Linked DNA regions of Homo sapiens: regions 1 and 3 are each linked to region 2. Evidence: fine-mapped expression QTL. A gene starts in region 2. Each other region holds a variant in brackets. All regions are shown on one strand. Distances are from middle to middle. Region 1 overlaps SYT9 (synaptotagmin 9). Region 2 holds the start of SYT9-AS1 (SYT9 antisense RNA 1). Region 3 holds the start of OLFML1 (olfactomedin like 1).

What was found. PIP is the estimated chance that this variant, and not a neighbour inherited with it, causes the effect.
Region 1: its variant is fine-mapped to the expression of SYT9-AS1 in tibial nerve (GTEx, PIP 0.94).
Region 3: its variant is fine-mapped to the expression of SYT9-AS1 in subcutaneous fat (FUSION, PIP 0.95).

What each region holds. Positions count from the first base shown.
Region 1 is chr11:7,430,400-7,438,309 of GRCh38, reverse strand. The region is part of intron 6 of SYT9 (synaptotagmin 9); the gene reads right to left. It overlaps SYT9-AS1 (SYT9 antisense RNA 1), which reads left to right. Exons shown (of 5, transcript NR_103855.1): 5 at 1-683. Among named protein-coding and RNA genes, the nearest start is that of SYT9-AS1, 31 kb to the left of the region's middle. RefSeq lists an enhancer at 1,577-1,626. The variant G/C (reference allele first, on the strand shown) is at 4,547.
Region 2 is chr11:7,461,866-7,469,775 of GRCh38, reverse strand. SYT9-AS1 (SYT9 antisense RNA 1) reads left to right here and starts at 3,941. Exons shown (of 5, transcript NR_103855.1): 1 at 3,941-4,023. It overlaps SYT9 (synaptotagmin 9), which reads right to left. Exons shown (of 7, transcript NM_175733.4): 7 at 733-2,984. The coding sequence ends at 2,976. RefSeq lists an enhancer at 1,795-1,854.
Region 3 is chr11:7,481,806-7,489,715 of GRCh38, reverse strand. It overlaps OLFML1 (olfactomedin like 1), which reads right to left and starts at 4,210. Exons shown (of 3, transcript NM_198474.4): 1 at 3,712-4,210; 2 at 1,301-1,589. The coding sequence starts at 3,840. RefSeq lists an enhancer at 4,029-4,533. The variant C/T (reference allele first, on the strand shown) is at 3,161.

The sequences.
Region 1 (7,910 bases), 31 kb after region 2:
CACGTATCTCCAGGTCAAAGCCCGCACAGCAGTTATCCCCTCCCTCTCTTGTATCTTCAACCTTTCCTTTCCTATTGGGAAGGATTTCCGTATTTCCAAGAGCCTGCTCAAGTGGGGTCAGCATGTGTCTCTGGTCACCACCCTCTCCCCTGTGGAAGGCTGACAACTCTCCCATCTATACAAAATTTGAAACCACCAATTATATGATTGACACTATTACACTGGAACAATTTCCTGTCAGACTCCCCCACCAGACTCTTTACAGGCCGGTGCTTCATCTACATCTCTCTGTCCACAGCACTTGGTGTAGTATTCGCAACCTAGCAGGAATGAAAGAGTCCGTGTGGAGTCAAGCACCTCAGGGAACCCCTTGAAAGCAGTGACACATACCTCCAACAAGAATTGCCTCTTCCTTCCTTCTGTGGCTTTGCACAGCATTTTTCTTTAATTATAAACACAGTTGGTCTCTCTATGCTGTTTAGGCTAAGCACAGCACAGCTTCAAACTGGAAGGTTAAATATTTGTGGTAAAAATAACTTATTTGTGCCCATGCAAATGTGGCAACACAAACTCAGGCATGTAGTGTTCTATGCAGAGAAGCTAAAACCAAGGAATGACATTAATTTCCGGTGAAAATATGTGATGACAATCTTAGAATTCTGGCTTTTCAGAAAAAAAAAAAATCACTCTAGAGGGTCCTAAAAATATGGGCAGTTGGTGATGAGTCCATATTCCTTCTTATCACTCCCACACTGGATCCAAATACAGTGGTCGTTTTCAAAGTGCATATCACACAGTGTTTATTGAATCCATAATGGGCAGTGGCCCATTATGGGTTTGTGAAATTAATTTAATGATTGTGACCAGTAGTCTATTTTTAATGAAAAAAAATTAAAAAGTGCATCACGTTATGTTTATTAATTTCGTGAAACTTTTGTTTCAGTTTTATATCTATGTCCATGTCATGACTGAAATGTATATCTAAATGTGAATCAATGCCAAGAACATTTGTGGCACACTGCTCCCTTCCATGTAGAACTGGGGACTTATTGAAATACTGTGCTACACCTTACATTCTTAACACTAAAGTCTTTGTGAAGCACTGGAAATTCCAAGAGCCAGAGAAATGAGAAACTTAGGCTATCTCTGGAAAAGTTATCCTTATTTAAGCACTACAATAGAACAATAAAAAATAAGCTACTGGAAAGCCTGGGTAGAGTTACAGTTTCCCAGAATCTTAATTGGCTGCAGAAAGGAAACAAACACTTGTCCAGCGTCTTTCACTGCTTTCACCAGATATTATGCTAGGTGCTTTCAGGTATGTTGTATCATTTAATCATCCTCACACAGTTATCTAAAACTAGCTACTGATATCCCCATTTTACAGAAGAGGAAATGAATCCTCAGAGAGATGAGATAATTTGCTCAAGCTCAGCAGCTCGAAGTGGCTGAGCTGTAATTAGGTTCCTCTTCCTGTTAGACACTAGTAACAACAGCACAGCTGAGGTCGTCCACCAGGAAGTTGAGCTGGGTCACGTCTTCCTCTTTGATTAAATGATTTTGCTCTCCTCAATTTGTCTGCTTCGATCACAGTAGCTCTTGCATTTATCTGTTTTAGACCTTCAACTTTCAAATTAGATTTGACTTCATCAAAGAATTTGGCCAAAAACAAACAAACAAACAAACAAAAAAACCAACTGGACACCACTGTATTAAACAAGTAATTTAAGTCTTTGTGTGTATGCTTAAGTTTGCTAAGAGCTCTTACATTTGTACATATACATGCATATAAACAGCATATTACAAATAATCTAGAAACATATAGGAGCACCATGGACCCTCAGTCTGAGATCCGACTAAGCAACTTCTCATTTTACAATTCAAATGCAAATCCATGTTAATCCTACTGAAGATACTGTCCCCACTTTCCCTCCCTCCAAGGCCACCAAATTCCTTTCCCTGTGGCTGGCTGCTGCACCAACACTTCTCTCCCTTTTCCTAACCTGCTCTTTCTTCAGTTTCTTTACTGCCTGGAAGGAACCTTATAGGTAACCTACTATCCTACCCACCTCAATAGCAAGCATGTCCTGCTCAGCAGCACAGAGCCTTAAAAACAGAGGCCACCTAATGTTCTCTTAGCATGGAGTGGATAGTGATGGTGGAAGGGCTCAGTCCTTAAATTCCAAGCCCTCCTCTCTAAAATTGGAATGGGTGAAGTCCTGAATCTGGCCCAGATCTGTTTCTCCTATAATAGTCCTGGCTCACCATTATTCCCTGTCTCATGGAGTTCTCTTCTGGTCTTTTCAGCTGATTTTTTTTTTTCTTTTTCTAGATGAAGTCTGGCTCTGTTGCCCAGGCTGGAGTGCAATGGCACAGTCTCGGCTCACTGCAACCTCTGCCTCCTGGGTTCATGCAATTCTCCTGCCTCAGCTTCCCAAGTAGCTGGGATTACAGACATGCACCACCATGCCCAGCTAATTTTTGTATTTTTAGTACAAACAGGGTTTCACTATGTTAGTCGGGCTGATCTTGAACTCCTGACCTCAAGTGATCCACTCCCCGCAGCCTCCCAAAGTGCTGGGATTACAGGCGTGAGCCACTGCGCCCGGCCTTTCAGCTGATTTTCTAATCAAGAAGTTATATCAGTCTTTGTCTGCAGTTGCTCAAAGACTCTCTTTTAAAGTGCAGAGACTATCCACCTCAGCTATAGCACAGGGCTCAGCACTGTATTTCCAGTTATGGAATACAGTTATTTCATATATGTTATATTATTCTTAATTCTGTCCCTAGTTCCTGCTACTGAGGAAGTCCATACTCAGCAGGACAGTCTCCTGGTCTGCCATGAATTCAAACACAATCTGTAAAGACAGTGAAGGAAGCTACATCTGTGCATGGGGGCTTTAGAGAATTATTGGCTTGAAGCAATAAGAGGAACATCTGGGCTGAGTAGTCCTCGAAGACTCTCATGTGATTCAAAAGTCCTTTTCTTCCTTATTATTTCCTATCTTGCTCTCAAGCATCTCCTCTGGCAGCAGCAACTGGAACTAAAAGTGATTTCTCTATAACAGCGAGCAAGTTTCTCATGGCCTTTGCTATTAACTCTTTCATGCCTGCTGACCTGCAAAAGAATCAGGAGGGCTGGTGCTGGAGCAGATGGCGCACTGTGAGTGATGGTTTAGATTCTGCCTGGACTCAAACCATTTGGTTGATGGCGGGAACCTTGATTTTCCCCCTTCTTATCCTGAGAGTGTAGGGTTTCTCTGAATTATTATTTCTTTCTTTGCAAGGATCCCTGGATCCTCATTCCTGATATAAGACTAGTTCTAGGTAAGTGCACATTCATGTGATATATTGGTTCCATACTAGGCAATGGAAGTGCCACATTATCTGTAAGGAGCAGGAGAAGAGCCATTAGCCCCAGTCCTGGGAACGAACTTTCTGTAACTTTAAGAAACATAAAACTTTAAATGCAACTGAAAGATTATATTCTGTCACCTCCAACTACTCACCCATAAATACAATAGGCACCACGGAGGCTAGGATAAAGTGCAAATTTAAGATTATAAGTGTGCTTATAATAAATATTGACAACATCATGCCTTCAATGTTATCAATGTTGATGTCACCCTGCAGGCCCAAGGTAGAGAGGTAGAACTGCTCCGCTGGCTGCCCTGCCATACTTTGGGGTCATGTGATACGATCTTCCATAGCCACGGGGCCTTGGTTGTCAACTCATTCCTGAACTTTGTGTGCCAAAGTGAGTCCAGCTTCCACACCCTTCACCTCCACCACCAGGCTGATCCAGACTGCCAGGCTACGATCCTCCAAGCAGGATCCTACCTTGATCTTAAAAACTTCCTATGAAGAGCTCTACCATCATGTTTTCTAAAACCAGAAGCCCACCCTAATCCCTGCCTGGCTTTTGGTTCCTTCATTAGAGGCAATCACTGCCATAGAGAGCCCCACTCACTATCCCTCCATAGACGCCTTAGAACTAGGTTGGGAGCACGAGATGCTCAGCCTTTATATTTTGTTATCTTGAACCACATGGGAGTCTTTGAGGACTACCCAGCCCAGACATTTCTCTTATTACTGCAAGCCGATAATTCTCTAAAGCACCTAAGCACAGACGTAGCTTCCTTCACTGTCTTTACAGATTGTGTTTGAATTCATGGCACAGCAGAAGACTGTCCTGCTGTGTATGGAGTTCCTCAGTAGCAGGAACTAGGGACAGAATTGAGAATAGCACTAACACCAGAAATACAGTGCTGAGCCCTGTGCTGTAGCTGAGGTGGATGGTCTCTGACTCTGTGGGCCTCTCTGCAGCCAGTCCAATTCCTGTCTTTCTCTTGTGAATAAATGTTGCTGGCTCCAACTCAGCCTTATTTTTTGATGTGATTCTGACTCCAGTCATTAAGGGGGATGTCTTAGTCCTTTTGGGCTACTATAACAAAATATCTTAGATTGGATAATTTATAAATGACAGAAATTTATTGCTCACAGTCCTTGAGGCTGGAAAGTCCAAGATAAGGTGCTAGCTGATTTG[G/C]TGTCTGGTGAGTGCTAGCTCTCTGCCTCATGGATGGGGCCATCATTCTGTGTCCTCGTATGGTAGAAGGGGCAAACAAGTTTCCTTGGGCCTCTTTTATAAGGGCACTAATCCCATTCATGAAGGCAGAGCCCTCATAACCTAATTGTTTCCCATCTCTTAATACCAGCACATTGGGGATTAGGTTTCAACATATGAATTTTGGGAGGATGCAAGCACTCAGACCATAGCAGAGAGAGAATGCAGATAAAGCCCCAGCAAAAAGCACACGCAGATGTGGATGTATTTGGATCCACTTCTCCGTTCCCATTTCCAGGACTTCATTAAGCATTAATAACAGGAAGAAAAATTCAGAATGTTCATATTTTAAAATTTATAGTCAATCTTAATCCCTTTGGATGGTATTTACTTTCTTGATTGGTGTATTAGTCCATTCTTGCATTGGTATAAAGAAATATCCAAGACTGGATAATTTATAAAGAAAAGCAGATTAATTGGTTCACAGTTCTGCAGGCTATACAGGAAGCATGGCACTGACATCTGCTTGGCTTCTGGGGAGGTCTCAGGAAGCTTTTACTTATGGCAGAAGGCAAATAGGGAGCCAGTGTGGCAAATGGCAGAGCAGGAGCAAGGGGGGTGGAGGTGCCACACACTTTAAACCAGATCTTGCAAGAACTCCCTCACTAGCATGAGGGTAGCACCAAGCCATGAGGGATATTATCCAAACACTTCTCACCAGGTCCTGCCTCCAACATTAGGGTTCACAATTCAACATGAGATTTGGGCAGGGACAAATATTTAAACTATATAATTCCACCCCAGCCCCTCCCAAATCTCATGTTCTTCCCATATTGCAAAATACAACCATGTGTTCCCAATAATCCCCCAAAGTCTTAGGTCATTCCAGCATTAATTCAGAAGTTCAAAGTCCAAAGTCTCATCTGAGACAAGGTAAGTGCCTTCTACCCATGAGCCTGTAATATAAAAAATCAAGTCATTTACTTCTAAGATACAATAGAGGTACAAGCATTGGATAAACATTCCCACTCCAAAAGGGAGAAATTGACCAAAAGAAAGGGGCTAGAGGCTCCATGCAAGTTTTAAACCCTGCAGGGCAGTCATTAAATATATATATATATATATATATATATATATATATATATATATATATGTATATATATTTTTTTTTTTTTTTTTTTTTTTTTTTTTTTTTTTTGAGATGGAGTCTCACTCTTGTTGCCCAGGGTGGAGTGCAATGGCACAATCTCAGCTCACTGCAGCCTCTGCCTCCCACGTTCAAGCTATTCTCCTGCCTCAGCCTCCCGAGTAGCTGGGATTGAAGGCACCTGCCACCATGCCCAGCTAATTTTTGTATTTTTAGTAGAGACAGGGTTTCACCATGTTGTCCAGGCTGGTCTCGAACTCCTGACCTCAACTGATCCACCTGCCTTGGCCTCCCAAAGTGCTGGGATTACAGGCGTGAGCCACCATGCCCGATTGTTGTTAAATCTTAAAGCTCCAAAATAATCCTTGACTCTATGTCCCATATCCAGGACACACTGGTGCAAAGGGTGGGCCCCCAAGGCCTTGGGCAGCTCTGCCCCTATGGTTTTGCAGGGTTGGCCCCCAGGGATGCTCTCGTGAGCTAGGGTTGAATACCTGTGGCTTTTCCAGGCACAGGGTGCAAGCTGTCAGTGGATCTACCATTCTGAGGTCTGGGGGCTGGTGGCCCCCTTCTCATAGTTCCCTTAGACACTGCCCCTGTGGGGACTCTGTGTGGGACCTCCAATCCCACATTTTCCCTTAGCACTGCCCTAGTAGAGGTTCTCTGGGAGGGCTCAACCCCTGCAGCAGGCTTCTTCCTGGGCACTCAGGCTTTCTCATACACCCTCTGAAATCCAGGCAGAAGCTGCTAAACCTTCACTCTGGTACCCACAGTTAAGCACCTGCAGGCTTAATGCCACATGGAAGCTGCCCAAGCTTATGGCTTGCATTCTCTTAAGTAGCAGCTGGAGGTGGACCTGGGCCCCTTTGAGCCATGGCTAGAGCTGGAGCAGTAGGGATGTGGGGAGCAGTGTCCTGAGGCTGCACAGGGCCGTGGGGCCCTGGTCCTGGCCCACAAAACCATTCATCACTCTTAGGCCTCTGAACCTGTAATGAGAGGGGCTGCTGCCAAGGTCTCCGAAATGCCTTTGAGGTCTTTTTCCCATTGTCTTGGATGTTAGCACCTGGCTCCCTTTTAGTTATGCCAATATCTCTAGCAAGTGGTTCCTCCACAGCTTGCTTGAATTTCTGTCTTGAAAAGCTTTTTCTTTTACTGCCACACGGTAGGCTGCAAATTTTCCAAACTTTTACACTCTGCTTCTTGTTTAAATATAAGTTCCAACTTTAAGTCATTTCTTAGGCTGTCAGAAGCAGCCAGGCCACATCTGGAATGCTTTGCTGCTTAGAAATTTCTTCTGCCAGATACTCTAGATCATCACTCTCATGTGCAAACTCCCACAAATCCCTAAGGTATGGACACAATACAACCGAGTTCTTTGCTAAAGCATAACAAAGATGACCTTTGCTCTTGTTCCCAATAAGAGCCTCATTTCCATCTGAGGTCTCATCAGTCTGGACTTCACTGTCCATATTACTATCAGCATATTGGTCACAACCATTTAACCAGTCCCTAAGAGAGTTCCAAACTTTCTCTCATCTTTCTGTCTTCTTGTAAGCCCTCCAAACTCTTCCAACCTTTGTCCATTACCCAATTCCAAAGCTGCTCCCACATTTTCAAGTATCTTTATTGCAATACCCCACTTCACTTCTGGTACTGCTTTTCTTGCATTGCTATAAAGAAATACCTGGGACTGGGCAATTTATAAAGAAAGGAGGTTTAATTGGCTTATAGTTCTTCAGGCTGTACCAAAAGCATGGTACTGACATCTGCTTGGTTTCTGGTGGGGCCTCAGGAAGTTTTTACTCATGGCAGAAGGCAAAGGAGGAGCCAGCATCTCACTTGGCAGAGCAGAAGCAAGGCAGGGTGGAAGGTGCCACACACTTTTAAATGACCAGATCTTGCAAGAACTCACTATCAAGAGGACCGCACCAAGCCATGATGGATATGACCCAAGCACCTCCCATCAGGCCCCACCTCCAACATTGGGGATTACAATTCAACATGAGGTTTGGGCAGGGACAAATATTTAAACCATATTAATTGGTTTTATGACCGCTCTTTAGTAAACTTTACTAATATGAACACTTACTATTAATATGTAAAGCATCTAAGCACACACCATTCAGATCCTAAGCTATGAAGGAAAAAATCACCCTATTGTTTTCCTGCCTTATTCATAACTGCTTCTGTTTCTGACAA
Region 2 (7,910 bases):
CTTTTTTAGAGAGACAGGGCCTTGCTCTGTCACCCAGGCTGAAATGCAGTGTTGCAATCTTGGCTCGCTGTAGCCTCAAGCTCTTGGACTCAGGCGATTCTCCTATCTCAGCTTCCTAAGTAGCTGGGACTACAGGTACATTGCTAATTTTTTAAAAATTAGCCGGGGGGGCGGGGGGTCTCTTTTGAAATTAGATGGTGGTCTCTCCATGTTGCCAGACTGGTCTTGAACTTCTGGTATCAAGTGATCCTCCCGCCTTGGCCTCCCAAAGTGCTGAGATTACAGGTGTGAGTCACTGCACCCAGCCCTAAATCATACCATTTAGAGTCATGATTGTTGGAGAATTTTGAAAACATCTGCATTGTAGAAACCTTTCCCCTCCCCTCCCTGACCCTTGCTCCTGTCATGTACCAGTGTACTTCCTGGACATCAAAGTGCCTGCTGCATATGTCCAACTCACTGGCTGGGAGGGTGCTTCAGCAGCAACACACATCAAGGGCAGGTCTCCTTGAAGCCAACAGAAGTAAGAGGAAGGGGCTGAGAATCAGTGCCAGTTGGGTGGGGGGACACCTGGCCTCTCCCTCTCTCGGCACCAGCTTTTCCCAAGGTCTGATCAGAATGTTTCCTTTCTACTGCCATGTCCATTTTTTCATGGTATTTTAATTTCCTTCTTTATCCTGGAAAAGACATTGGAGAATCCCCTTCCCCCAAGTTAAATAAGACAAGGTTGGAGTTTTTCAAAAGGAGCATTTACTAGGAAACTAAAGGGCAACCAAACAGAATGCAAGAGAACAGAGGCAGAGTTGCAAATGGGCTGAGGGAGTTCAAATTTATAACCAGCCTCTGCTCACAGCTGTACTGGCTAGGCAAAGCTTTCCAGACACAAAGCCACCTGCCTGCCATGTGGATAGTACTCTTTGCCTGCTTGCCCCTACAAAGCCACCTTCTATTTCATACCAATAAGCCAGTTGCATCCTCATTAGTATCCCAAGGCTGCTGGCTCTCTGGGCAGGAAGCTTCTGAGGTGGGGAACAGTAGGCACAGCTGCCTCAGGATCTCCAACCCAGGCTTCCATTGCCAAGGACATGTCAGAATTTATTGGGATTGCTGCCTGATATCTATTGGAGCCAGTCTGCTTTCTCTGGGACCATTCTTCTGGGCTCATCTGCCTAGCTTTACAGACAATATTTCTGCTAACTATCCTGGTGGCGCTAGCCCTTCATGTTTTGCTTCTAAACACTGGTATGGTGGAGGATGTCTGAATGAGGAGGGATGAGCAGAGGGGAACCTTGAGCAGAGGAAGCCAAGTTTTCCTTATGTCATCAGACATAGGCAGAACCTTGGATTCTCTTTGAATCCCAGTGGTTGGAAGCCAATCAGAGAAGTGAAGCTTGAATGTAATGACACTGCTTCCTACAAACAAAGGCCTATAGCCTTCTTAGATCTGCCATCAAAGTAGAGCTTCTTGTATAGTACTAGGCAGCTGGGGCAATGAGAACTTTCTGAAGACGTATAACGATCCTTCCTCCGCCCAGTTAGTTCCATGCTGAAATGTTAATTCAAACAGAGATAATGAGCTTTCCAGGAAGGTAAACTACAATCCAACTCTGGATTCTGCTGTAAAGAGATTGTGTGAAAAGAAAAATACTATCTTGGAGTAGTGGTGCAAATGTGTGGATGGGGTGCCTTGCACCTATAATGGGACAGAGAGGACCATTAGGTAACAGCCCCCAGTCCTCCCAGGATATGCTGAGGCCTTTGGTTTCATTTACGTGGAGGCAGAAGCAATGAGGATGAGGCGCATAGCTGGCCATTGGTTGGCAGACTTGGTCAGGAAGGAAGCTGAGTAATGAATGAGATGCCTGGGGAGGGCCCTTGACCTTCACTCTTGTAGGTATTTCCATCCCCAAGTGGTGTGAAAGTGATGTATGTGTCTGAAGTGAGAAGGAAACCTCTATGTGTGGTTGCCCAAGGCTATGACTCTGGGCTGTTGCATATGGAAATACCCCAGAAGGCATTCAGGCCAGAGAAGCCCAAAAGCTGTGCCTTTCTATAGGGGATGGCTGTGTTCTCTCTCCATGATCTCATCTCACCCATTGCTGTACCAGTTTCTGAGGCTGTTCCCTTAGTGGACGAATGTGCCTAGGAAAGGATATTCCACAATGCTCATGCCACTGAGATGTATGCCCTTCTAACTAATTACTTTTCATTCTAATAACACTCCCAGTTGAAAGGAAGGGGCTGCTAGCTACTGAGTGAGTAGTGTTGGGGGTCTCTGATTCCTCAAAATCTGGTTTTAGCAGAAAACAGGGCCATGTTGATACTGGTACTCTCTACCACGTGCATGGGAGGAGGCAGTGAATTTGCTGTGAACTAGCCCTCCTTGCATTAGATTTTTTCCAGGGAACAGCCTGCTTGTCTTGGTATTCTCTTGGGGCTATTCCTTGCAAATCTGGAGCACTTCTTGGGGCACAGTTATTTTCTGGAGACAGTCATTAGCTCAAAGGTAGTCATGTGTGAATTGAGATCTGCTGCCTATTTAGCACCTGGATATATTTTTAAATATTCTGTCCTTCCAGGGCATTCTAGAAAATAATATTATGTTGGAATAACGATTTCCAGGGCAGATGCTATGTCCTCATCACCAAGGGCTTCATATGAAACATTGAGTCCTGGTACTCTTGGTACTGTCACTATATCTATCATTTGTTTTTGTTCATAGTCCGATCTTGGTTCTTGGCATGAGAGACATGCTTCCCTGCAGCACATCACCTTGGGCCACCTGCAGAAGGTGGCTGGACCATTCAGGTTCACCAAACCCAATCTGGAAAGAAGGCCAGTTAGTGCTGTGGTTACAGCTGAGCATTTGGTCACTGAAATCGTCTGGATGTTGCTGGATGGAAAAAGTTACTTAAGATCTTTGTGAGATGGTTGTCCTATTTTGTCCTTGGCACAAGCAGTCCTCTTACCCATGGTCATCGTTTCTGCAGGAAGAAAAAACAAAAAAATAATTTGGCTTTCATTCATACATTTTTTTTCTTTTTTTTTTTTTTTTGAGACAGAGTCTTGCTCTGTCACCCAGGCTGGAGTGCAGTGGCGCGATCTTGGCTCACTGCAACCTCCGCCTCCTGGGTTCAAGCAATTCTCCTGCCTCAGCCTCCCAAGTAGCTGGGATTACAGGTGCCCGCCGCCACACCTGGCTAATTTTTGTATTTTTAGTAGAGACAGGGTGTCACCATGTTGGCCAGGCTGGGCTCGAACTCCTGACCTTGTGATCTGCCTGCCTCGGCCTCCCAAAGTGGTGGGATTACAGGCGTGAGTCACTGTGCCTGGCCCATTCATACATTTTTAATGTGCACCAAACAAGTGCCAGGCATGGTAATAGATGCTGGGGATACTAAGCCCATAAGTAGGACACTCCCCCTGCTTTCAAAGGGCTCACAGATGGAGATATTATGATGTGAGAAGCTGCATAGAATACTGCAGGGGCAATGGGAAGGGAGAAAGTAACTTCAAAGGGATTGAGGAGGTCTATAGAGAGCATTCTGATTGATGAGTCTTGAGCTAAGCCATTTAGGCTGAAGAGGAATCCCTCTGGAAAGAAGAAGGGTCACTTGGGGTAGAGGAAAGAGACTGTGCAAAGGCAGAATGCAATAAAGGGCATGGTGCATTGAAGGAATCATCACAATTTGGTGTGACTGGACTGTAGTGTGAGGAATGAAGTGGTCGGAGGTAAGGCTGGTGATATGATTTAGTTGTGCCCCCACCCAAATCTCAACTTGAGTTGTACCTCCCAGACTTCCCACGTGTTGTGGGAAGGGACCCGGCAGGGGAGGTAATTGAATCATGGGGGCCGGTCTTCCCCGTGCTGTTCTTGTGATAGTGAATAAGTCTCACGAGATCTGATGGGTTTATCAGGGGTTTCTGCTTTTGCTTCTTCCTCATTTTCTCTTGCTGCTGCCATGTAAGAAGTGCCTTTTGCCTCCTGCCATGATTCTGAGGCCTCCCCAGCCATGTGGAACTGTAAGTCCAGTTAAACCTCTTTTTCTTCCCACTCTCGGATATGTCTTTGTCAGCAGCGTGAAAATGGACTAATACAGCTGGGATGGAAAGATGAGGTCTGAGTGGTGCAACATCATTCCTTGTTTCCGAGATGTGAAGGAGGGGCTCTCTTAAGGAAGCCCCAGACTTAGACTAGCAGTATCTCTTGTGTTTCACACTCAGCCCAGCATTCAACTTAATTTAAACTCAGGGCACCTTCCAGCACAGATTAAATGTAGTAATACTGTGGCCATAGAGAGAAAAAACTGAAGTGACTTCTATGGATATAGGAATAACAAAATTTACACGTAAACTATAAAAGAGTAGCAACCATTCTGACAATGAAATTTATGGACTTCATTTCAGAGATCAAAAGTTCACATGTGAGGCTATAACTTACTTAAGGAAAGTATTAAAAGCCAGTGTGTTCACTGCAAAGGGAAACCACGTTTGATTGTGACCCGTGGCTTTGAAGTGTGTGCATGTGTGTGGGCACACACACACATCTCTGGGAAAGGGGTCTTTGTTTCTGTGTCTAGGAAGAAAGACTGAATGATATTTGTCTTAATATTGTGGTTCAAATATCAGTTTGCCAGATCAGCTGCTACCCTGGAGCACCATCCAAATAGCTCTACTTTCGTTTTTTTTGAGATGGAGTCTTGCTCTGTCCCCAGGCTGGAGTGCAGTGGCGCAATCTCGACTCACTGCAAGCTCCACCTCCCGGGTTCATGCCATTCTCCTGCCTCAGCCTCCTGAGTAGCTGGGACTACAGGCGCCCGCCACCACGCCCGGCTAATTTTTTTTTTTTGTATTTTTAGTAGAGACGGGGTTTCACTGTGTTAGCCATGATGGTCTTGATCTCCTGACCTCGTGATCCGCCCGCCTCGGCCTCCCAAAGTACTGGGATTACAGGCGTGAGCCACCGCGCCTGGCCCCGAATAGCTCTACTTTCTAAGCCACCATCTACATCAGGCCCGTGGTTCCCTAGCCGCTCTTTCAACTGTGAAACCCATACCCATATCAGTTTGCCAATTCCTGAGTTCCTTCCCATCAGAGAAAGCAAATTGTTAACAGGCTCAGTGTCACCAATGAATGTGGTCTGGAATTAGTTGTGATGGTATCAGCCCATATTCCTTCATTTTTGGGTACTTATTGTATGCCAGGCACTGGGATATGGACTTTACAAGTTCTTAAAAGACCCCGTGGGGTTCTTTAATGGAGGATGCAGCGTTGTAGAGACACTAATTTGCACAAGGCCACACTGTGACTAAGTGTCAGAGCTGAGATTTAAACCCAAGACTTCCAATTTCAAAGTCCAAGCTTTAGCAATTATGTCAATTCCCTCTGTAGGTCCAGTCTACATTTCTGATGTATTAAAAGTACTTTATCTGCCTTGGCTTTCTAGACTCCCTAAATCTAGCCAGATGAGCTTCCTTTAAGAACCCTAGTCCAAACTAGTAGCATACAGCAGGTGCCACATCCCACTTATGGTTTCCTAGCTGCTTATCCCATTTCTCTGGATTCCCCCAGCTAGTGACATGCATATGTATCTTGTTTGCCCCCACAGTTCTGTGCACAACCTCATTTTTCCCTATTATGACCTAATTTTACCTCTTCATTTAAGCAGTTCCTTCAGAATGCTTTGGGTTTAGCTCTCCCAAAGTACCCAGCCTTAGGGACCACCTCTGTACCTGATTTCTTATGGCCTGTCTAAAGCCTGCTTAGAGGGCTAGGCTGCAACCTTAGCCAATTTTTTTTACCAGTCCCCATACCCAGGGATACCACTAGCATTGGCATTGTTGCCAATGGCCAAGTCATAGCACAGCTCCCACCTGAACTCCATAGCTGGGTTTTGCTCATTTGGTGAATTTCCTTGTGTGTGTAATTAGCCAGAATCAAGGTCAGCCTCTGGAAATACGGCGGTGCAGCCTACTGGTCTCCCCCTTCTTAAGGTGCAGCCCTTCACTTGGGTGAGTTTTCTGGGCTCTGAATCTTTTCCTCTTCTGGACAGCGCCACTAAGGTCCTAGAATGCTTGTGAGCTGGGACCAAGCCCACAAGATGACAGGATTAAGGAGTTTCAATACATCTGGTGTCGTGATAGGGTCATTGCTACCAGCAATATTGCAAGAAAAGCCTCTTGAAAACAAACTTATTCTAGGGAAAGTCAAGCATACAAGTCAGTTCTGAAAAAGTTGTCTCAGGAGAAGACATGAGTAAATTTTGCTGTTGTTGTTCAGCCCCCTTTTGTCTGGCTTCTGTTGGGGGAAGACTAGAAAATCTCAACCAAATCAAACAAAATAAGCAAATTACACCTTTCCAAACTCCTATAACCTAGTGAGCTGTTTTTCAGCCAAAAATTGTATAAAACAAAATGTGAGAAAAGAAAGATTTTTCCATAATTCAGAAAAGCATTGACCCAGTGGGATTTTGTTGAGAGGAAGGTGGTAGAGACTCAGTCATCAACACCGGAGACAGTAACGGTGGTTTAATAACTGTTGAGCATAATGCTAGCTTGGCTGGTTCCAGTGCTGGTGCCAGCCCCATTTCCATGGGCAGAAGCAGCAGTGTCCTTGTTATGAGACCTGGTGGGCTCCCAGGCAGTACCAGGGGTTTAGAAGGTACCAACAACTCCAGTAGTATCAACAGGAAGTAGTGGTTACAATCCTATCTGAACAGAGAAGATTGTAAGTGAATTCAATTGTCCTGAGACATAAGGATCTAATTTGAATTAAATTGAATTGAAACCAAAGATGAGAACTGTCCTAATGAAAACTGTAATGTGAAGTGACATTTCGATCACAAAAATGACAGCTGATATGAGACAGGCCATTGAAACAGACCCCAAATTAAGAACATGAAAAGACAGAGTGAAACATTAGATAATATCTCTCTGTGAATCTGAAAATGGGACTTTATTACAGGAAGTACCTAAGGGCTCTGAACTAAGAAGCTTGTCAAAAATGGAAGTGATTCTTATTACATGATTTAATCTTATTATGTACTTAATATTGTTAAATTTACATTTAAAATTTTATTTAAAAAGCACAAAAATCTCAGGATTTTGTTGACTATTTATTGCTTACCACAGCTTTGCAAATATATGAAGATTCATCATGCTCTGCTGGTTTAGAATCTGATTTTGTTGACTGTTGCTTAGCACAGCTTTACAAATATATGAAAAATTATCACGCGCTGCCAGTTTACAATCTGATTAGCTTCTTTCTGTAAAGAGGACATTCTATTTTTTTTTTACTTCCTCTCTCGGCTTTAAGAACAAGTATGTTAAAGAAATAAAGCAGTATGAATGTGACTATACTGCCTTTCAGGAGATTGGGCCAGTAGCATGGAAAAATGAAAGGGTCCATTTGGGCAACAACTACTATTTATTGAGTGCTTAAGCACTAGCTCTATCCTAAGAGCTTTGCATACCTTATCTCATTCATGCCTCACCTTAACCCTCTGTGATAGATATTACAATTACAGTTTCACAGTGAGGTAACTGAGTCTGAAAAAGGCCAAATAATAAAGGTAGTAAATGGCAGAGCCAGAATCTGCCACCATGCTTTTATGGATTAAAATGTATGCTCTTAAGTGCTATGCCCAGAATGGTAAATTATTGTGCTTTGAATGGTAACTCCACTACAGCACCTTTCTAGAAAGGATTCTTAGTCCAGAAATGAATTCTGAACAGTCCAGACTTCACAGGAGAGTGTGTTAAGATTCACCGTCAAGTAGACCTTGAGGGGAAAGGTGGCAAATGGTGCGTGGCATGTGTGACATGTAGATTGTTATTTACTGAGAGGGGCTCATTAGAAACAATCAAGAAGCAAAGGCTACAGTGAAGGCACCATTCAGAAGGTAAGACAAG
Region 3 (7,910 bases), 20 kb before region 2:
ATTCCAATTCTCAATGGCTCTCAAATCCACCTGTTCTCTGTCCCATGACACTTAATGCCAACACTATTACTTGTTGCCCAAATCATTGCAGCATTCCCTGACTGGTCTCCTCTCTCTAGTCTTAGCCTCTTCCTTCGTATCATGCCCTTGTTTAAAATTGCTCAATGGTTCTCTATAGTTTCTCCAGTGAGCTTCAACTTCCTTCATCTAGCATGCAAGGTCTCTCATTAACTGGGTCCTGCTGAGCTCTTCAACCTAGTTTCCCTACTGTCACCTCTCTAAAAAGCTTTCACTCAGCCATATTTGCGGGTCTACATGTCAAGGTGCTACAGTACCCTCATGCCTTTGGTATATTGTGCCCTGACTTGAAGTACCCTCTACTCATTCGTTTCTAACTTCTTTGTTCAAAACTGAGACCAAGTGTCACCTCATTTAGGAAGACCCTTTTCCTTATAGTGACCATGAAGTTCTTAGAAGGATTACATTGAGAAGGTATGTGAAACTTTTAGCACAATGATGGCACTCAGCTTATATGTCATTTCCCTGATGGAGGTTCTTGAATTGGAACAGACGTAATTAGCATGTAAATAAAGTCTTCCTATTTGCAATGAAAACATCTCAGAATACAAACCCTGAAGTGGGAGATTTGTCTCCCTCATTGTTTTAATGAAATAGACTCGGGCACAGAAAATTTTTCTTTGTCATTTGTGTGTTTATTGCCTGATACTGTTTATTATAATTTGAGCTGCTACACATTATTCTTAATGGCTTGGAAGTGATTCTGATGGATCACAAGATTAGACCACATCCCATGCATATCACCATCTCAGACAGCACACACAATAGTGATTCACTGCAGTTCCCATCCCTGAGGGTTGGCTGTTGCCATTTCCAATTTAAGACTGTTTCTTGGTACATTTGCAGATGCTATCTACAGCCTGGGTACTGGATGTAGAATCCACCAAACTGCTACTTTCCCTGAAAAAATCTGGGACCACACATCTCCACCAAACCAAGATTTATCAGGAGGTAGTCTCTTTGGGCTGACTTTTGGCACTATAGCCTTCACCATCTATGGAGGCTTTAGGCACTGTGTGTGAAAGAAAGAATGGCTTTGCGAGAATGGATTTCTCTTTGGACACCTGTTCTCTGTATAGCTTTCTCTCTCAGCAATGCACACAAAAGCACACCTCCAATTCTTACTCTCATTACTCTATGATGCTCCCTGACTGCTCTGAGTCTGTGTGTTTCTGAGCATAATAGTCCCTAGAAGGGCTAGGAAAAGATGCAGTTTTCTTACTTGCATTCAGCAGAGTCCGGATCTTTTTCTCTTCTTCAGCTTCTTGGAGCAACATTTCTGCCAGTGTCTTGTCCTCTGATTCGATGCACTCGTCAGCCTCTCGAAGGTATTGTATGTAGTCAATCTCCCGTTGGGCACGTTCAACTCTCAGTGCCAAGTTACCCACTGCACTCTTGTACTCACTTGTGTAGGTCTGACATCTTCCCAGCATGACAGATATATTTTTTGAGAACTCTTGGAATTCTTGAATGTATGCCCTCGTTGCTTGGGTACATTTTTCCAGCCCTTGCTTCAGTCAGAAAATAAATTTGCAAATTATTGCTTGTTATTTAAATTACCCAAATAATATAAATACCTATCATTTATAGAAAAGGATTAGAAAATTACACATCATCAAATAGGGGAAAAATTGAAATCTCCCATAATTCCTAAATTCAAAGGTAGTATTGATACTTGAGTATATCAGTTTTTAAAAGTTTTCCCAAGCATTTAGTCATACATATGTAAATATATATTTTTAAAATGTGATTTTACTATATGTTTTGTATCATCTTTTTCACTTGCAGATATATTGTGAACATACTTTGATACTAATTAAAGTATACCTATACCATAACTTTAATGAGAGCATTCCATTTAATTGATATCCCATTATTTATTCTGTTAGACTCTTTTTGAGGTACATTTACATAGTTTTTAATTTTTTGTCATTCAAACAATGCTGAGAAAAAAACTTTTTATTTACATCTTCATCAGATTATTAAGGGAAAAAAAAACCTTTGTATTTACATCTTCATCAGATTATTTTAAGGTAGATTTCCAGAATATCCGTCCCTAGCACTTGGCACAGGGCCAAGCACATAATACTATTCAATAAATATTTGCTGAACAAAAGAATAAATGAATGGAAATGGGATTGCTTGGTCAAAGAGAATGTCTACTTAAAGCTCATTTGGCATGGTTTATCAAAATTCTATCCACAAATGTAAAAATGTATGCTCCAAACAACAATACGTAAGGCTGTTTATTTTGAAGGGAGAAAGACAGAAAGAGAGACCCAAAATAATTCCCTAAATCCCTACCCTCTTTTTTCCTACCCCTCCGACACTGGCTTCTCAGGCTGGGAATGCTATCACTGTATTGTTAAGTGTCTGCGCTGGCCAACAGTGACTGCCACCTGCGACTTGGCTTCACCTCAGGTCAGGACTGGGGTGGGAAGATCTATACAGATCATATCCTTGTCTTTTTCAAATCCACATTCATAGCTATAAAAGGATCAGTCTGTACTTCATACCCTTGACAAGTTCTTAAGGTAGTGAAAGACAATTTGCAGGGATTTGGCTGGCTTTACTCCCAAGGCAAGTCGGTGCTAAATGCAGAGGGATCCTGACTGAGCATCATTCTGGCACTTCTAAGGAGGTGAGGCTCAGGAGGGAGCAAGTGAAGAAGCGCAAGAGGCCGCTCGTCTGGGAACACTTCATCCACTGCCTCCAGGCCCCAGCCTGTTGGCTGGACGCCCTTAGGAAATGCATTCGGCCTGCTATGTGGAATTACTTTACCCTGACTATAACTAGAAGAACATATAATTTGGACATGAAGATTTTTCAGGAAAATGTATAAAATAATTATTAGCAATAAGAGGGTCTTTGAAAGAAGATAAATAATTTATCAATTTAGCTTGTACAAAAGCAAGCCATTAAGTATGAATAATCAATGCCAGGGTGTGGCAAAGGCTAGGGTGGAGGGTTACATTTGTCCCTGGGAGCCTGTCCAGGCTGCCAAAATGTTGGGTTTTGCACATTTTAATGAGGTGGCAGCCCAAATGCATTCTTTCTGTTTAACTTGGCTGAAATCTGCTCA[C/T]TTCTAAGTCTAAATCCAGTTCAGCAAAAGAAACTAAGACTTCTCAGTACATTGATATCATGACTTTTTACAGTGACCTAATGGTTTATCATAAAAGACAAAACGAAAAGCTGAAATCCATTATCAGCCTGAAACACTAAAACATGAAGAAAAAGTAACCAACATTTTTAAGTTTCATATTTTAAAAAATGAACTATGGTGAATAATAACATTTTAGATACATACCATTATGCCAGGCAGTATTTTAGCTATGGATTAAATCTTCAGGATAGCCTTACAACATAAATTCTACTATTATCCCCATTTTACAGATGAGACAAACTGCCAAATCAGAGCACAAAGTGCAACTGTGCTTAAGGTCTGGAAGTAGCACACTGGACTCTGGAGTTCGGCTCTAAACTGCCAGACTATGAGCATTTTAAAGTGTAACTTTGGCAATGTGTCATTTGCTATCTGGGAAAAATACAACCCAGTAGATAGAGAAGCATGGGTAAAAATAAGGTACTTCTGGGAAGCCTGTTACTTATCCAAGGTGTACAGATGCCACCTACCTCCAAGACTCGAAAGCGCTGGTAGATGTAATGCACCATGGCTGGGTCCTGGGTACACTGCGGCGGGGGCAGAAAAGCTGCAAGGAACAGAACCAGCAATGCAGAAGCTCCTCGAAGGGCCACCATCATCCTGCAAAACACCAAGCAGGGCAGTCTCTTATGCTGTGGCTCTTCTCAAGGATGTCTCAAGGGCTCCGGTGGTGCTCTCCTGCTCTATCCGCTGCTGTGGCAAATCCTCTAAAAACAGCGTTTTGCACAGCAGAGAGCAAAGTCCGCTTGTTATTCCACCCGATACGTGAGCTCAGTTTGCCAGCTAGTGATCAAGTCCAGCTGTTGGCAAGTTGGTCCCTGAGGCCTTGTAGACTGACCTGTGGCAGAGAGCTCCCTGGGTCCAGCATCTGTTGCCCTCACCCTTGACACATGCGGACCCTCCCCAGGCTAGTGGTTGCAAGCTGCTTCCTGGCTTAATTGTGTGTGCATTGGGGTGGGGGGTGAAGATGGCTTCCCCCCGTTCCCTTCCCCCAGCTATTTCCTTTTTACTTTTGCTTTCCTCCTCCCTAGTGGATTCTGCAGTCCAATCGCAGGCCTTCCCCAACACAAACCACCCCCAACTTTTTAAAGTTGGACTCTCAGTTTAGTTTCTGGCAAAAATTCCCAGGATCCTTTTCCAGAAGTCCTATTGGGAGACCCCACCCCTCATCCAGACTCCCTTCACATTCCTGCAGCTCTTAAAGGCACAGCCAGGAAAAATAAACATGGATCTACCACTATCTCTGAACAGCCAGTGCACAGGGCTACATCGCCCCTTGGGCAGAAAGGTACAATGGGCTACAGGCCTGGCCATCCAGGCTGTCAGCTGAAACATCTCAGGATGGAGCTGAGAATAATTTGATTAAGAGGAACAACAACAATCATTGATACAGTGATGCTTCCAGGGTCAAGCCATCAAAAAGTGAAACGCCTTTGTAAGGAAATCCTTGAGTTTTCTCAATCACTGGAGGCAGAATTCCCTTCATGTAGCTGCAGGCCAGAAATATGTAGGACTAAACTCCTGCAGGCCCTGGTCCAATTGAAGATAAATTATAACCCTAGGACAAGGTGGTAAAATCTTTGAATTTGTCTGTGCAGTCCAGCCCTCTTCTTATCTCAACCTGCCTTTCCATGGGAAAGGCCAGGACGCCTTGGGGTTCTTTCTCAATCACCTGCCAAACTGAGAAAGGCTGGGGCATCTATGGAATGTGAAAAGAATGCTCTCCAGGAGTCAGAAGGCCTGTGTTTCCATTTGGTCCTCACAAGAGACGCTAATAGATACCTTTATCAAAACATTTCACGTACCCCATAAACACCTACTATGTATCCACAAAATTTTTTTAAAAGAGACACATAGACTGAGAATTTTCCACTGGTGGTCCTTAAACTTCCTTATGCCCGGTAATATTTCTCCCCACCCTTCTTCCATATGGCCACAGCTCCTAACTATTCCTCCTCACCCTCTCGGTAAAAATCCCAAACAGTAGTTCATCATCCTTAGAAACAATTCCTCATATTTCTTAGAACCATCTTTGCACTATTCCCTAAACCAGTTGAACTTCAGCTGACCCTGCCTCCTAAATCCTTATTAAAAATTCTGTCTGGCTCACGCTGCTTCTCCAAGTGAGAATATTCTCTCTGAAATTACTCATGCCTAGCATTTTTGAATAAAGTCTTAAGGGTGCTCTAGTTGATTTACTTCCACAAATGCCTCAAGTCCTAACTCTGAGACTGTGAACTAAGATGGATAAGGTCCAGTGGAGGAAAACTCTGATTGTATCTAATTAACTTTTCGGTGGTGGTGGTGTGGGTAGTTCTTTCCTGGGTTTTCTAGAGCATGCTTACATTACTTTTTCAATGAAATACACATGCCATACTTACAGAGTCTAAAGAATTACTGGAGAGTCTGTAAGGGGGAAATGCAGTGGGAAGCCTCGGTTGCAGCAGAAGTCCTTGAGGTGCTTTCAGGGCTGCTGTTGCTCTTATCTCTGTGGAGTGGGCTCCAAAGAGGTTGGCTCAGGACTGGCAGGCACCATCTCTGCCCACCAGTGATTCAGGCCCAGCACCACTTTCTCTGCGGTCACCACCTTCTTCAGAGGGACACTCCTGGCCTCTCAGCTCTGACTGCCCACACCTGGTCTTAACTGGAGAGCTTCATTTACTTTTTGTAATCCCAAACAGGGACAGCAAATCTCACAGCTGGAACCCATAACCCATTAGGATTGATGACCCATAGTTCAGAACCAGAGTGGAAACTCTCATATTCTCGTGACCAGAGGTTTCATAAAGAAAAACCAAACTCACTTTGGAGACAGACCCAGCCTTGACTCGCAGTGGCCTACTGAAGCCATCTTTATTAGAACAGTCCCTCCTCAGTGGGTGCCGGGTGGATAAGGGTGAAAAAGATGGCCTGCCGCACCTAGACCTGCAGCTGGACGAAATCAGTTAGCTCCACTGTCTTCATTACACGTAACCTCTGGCCTTGACCGTTGCTATTACTAGCCAGGACAGTGGACAAGCACAGTGACTTCTCTTTTCTCCTCTGCAAGTGTCTGATCCTTCCGCTTTTCTACCCCGGTATCCTGAGAGGGGAAATAAGCTCCTTTATATCCACCACTATTTCCTCTGTGTGGTTGGATCCAGGTGACTGGTCCTTAATCTATAAGCCAGGCCTGAGCTGACTGTTTTCTCTAAATGAGAAGGAGCCGGATATATCAATTCTCTCATCCCAGTTAGCCCCCTGAAGCTGATCACATCCAGATCTCCAGTTCCTTTTGGAAATTTTTGCTGCCTTCATCCCTCTTGGCTCCATTTGCTGCTGTGCCTCCACGTTAACCGACCTTCTGATATCTAGAGCCTTCTCTGCTTCCAGTACTCCCTCACTTTGCTGAGAGATGCTAGTCAACTCCAGCAAAGTCTGGAGGAGACTTTGCCTTTTTGAGGATGCAGAACCCCAGTCAACAGAATCCCTTCTGGGATATTGGAATTCGTCATTTAGATATGAACAGGATGCCTCCTCCTTCTGTTTTTTTTTCTCTTTGCCTCTATTTTTCCCTTTATCTTTTGCTTGTCATACCTCTCCTGCTTCCCCCTTCCTGATAGTTATTTGCTGTAAGTCATCTTCAAATCTTCCAACCTTTTACCAAGTTAATTGCATTGTTTCCTGCATGAGTGATTGGAACAGCCTCTAATTCCCTATCTTCATCTCTTTAGATAAAGTGTTGGCTGATTTTATGCCAAAATGAAAGCTTTTTACCGTATAACCTCGGTCAACCTTTCTTCCTTCAACAATTGGCATCTACCACATTCATCCTCCACAACAGCCACATCTAATTGTCTCCAAGCTCCCCATGAAATTTAACATGTGGTATCTTTGCTTATGCAGTTTCCTCAGCCTGAAAGGTCTCTCCCCTTTGTAACTAGTGAATTCTTCAAGTCCTCCTGCCACCTATTTGACCCCATTCCAGGCAGAATAATACCTGTAACATGTTGAATCCTGAATCTTGGAAATTTGAGGGGAAGGCTAATCTGGGCATTGGTGCTTGGTGAGAGCTGTGGGCTTGCTGCCTCTGGGACAGACAGCACTGTGGAAGGGGAAAGAGAAGAAACATAGAACTATTAGGGGCTGAAGTGTGTTGCCCCCAGATTCATATGGTAGAGCCCTAACCCCCATGACTTCAAAATGTAATTATATTTGGAGTTAGGGTCTTCAAAAAGGTGTTTTAGTTAAAATGAGACAATCAGGGTGGACTTTAATGTGACTGGTGCCCTTATACAAAGAGGAAATTTGGACCAGGAATGTTAGTGCACAGAGAAAAGCCCATATGAGGACACAGCAAGAATGTGATCATCTGCTAGCCAAGGAGAGAGAGCACATAAGAAATGAAACCTGCCCACACCGTGATCTGGGACTTCTGGCTTTCAGAACCATGAGAAAGTAAAATTCTGTTGTTTAAGCTTCTAGTCTGTGGTATTTTGTTATGGCAGCCCAAGCAAACTAATACATATTATATCCCTAGTGTGTTCCAGGAACTGGGCTAGGCACTAGGGTTACAATGATGGACACAATAGACATATTTCTTACACCCTTAGAAGATGTAGTCTAGGCTGGGCGTGGTGGCTCACGCCTGTAATCCCAGCACTTTGGGAGGCCGAGGCGGGCGGATCAT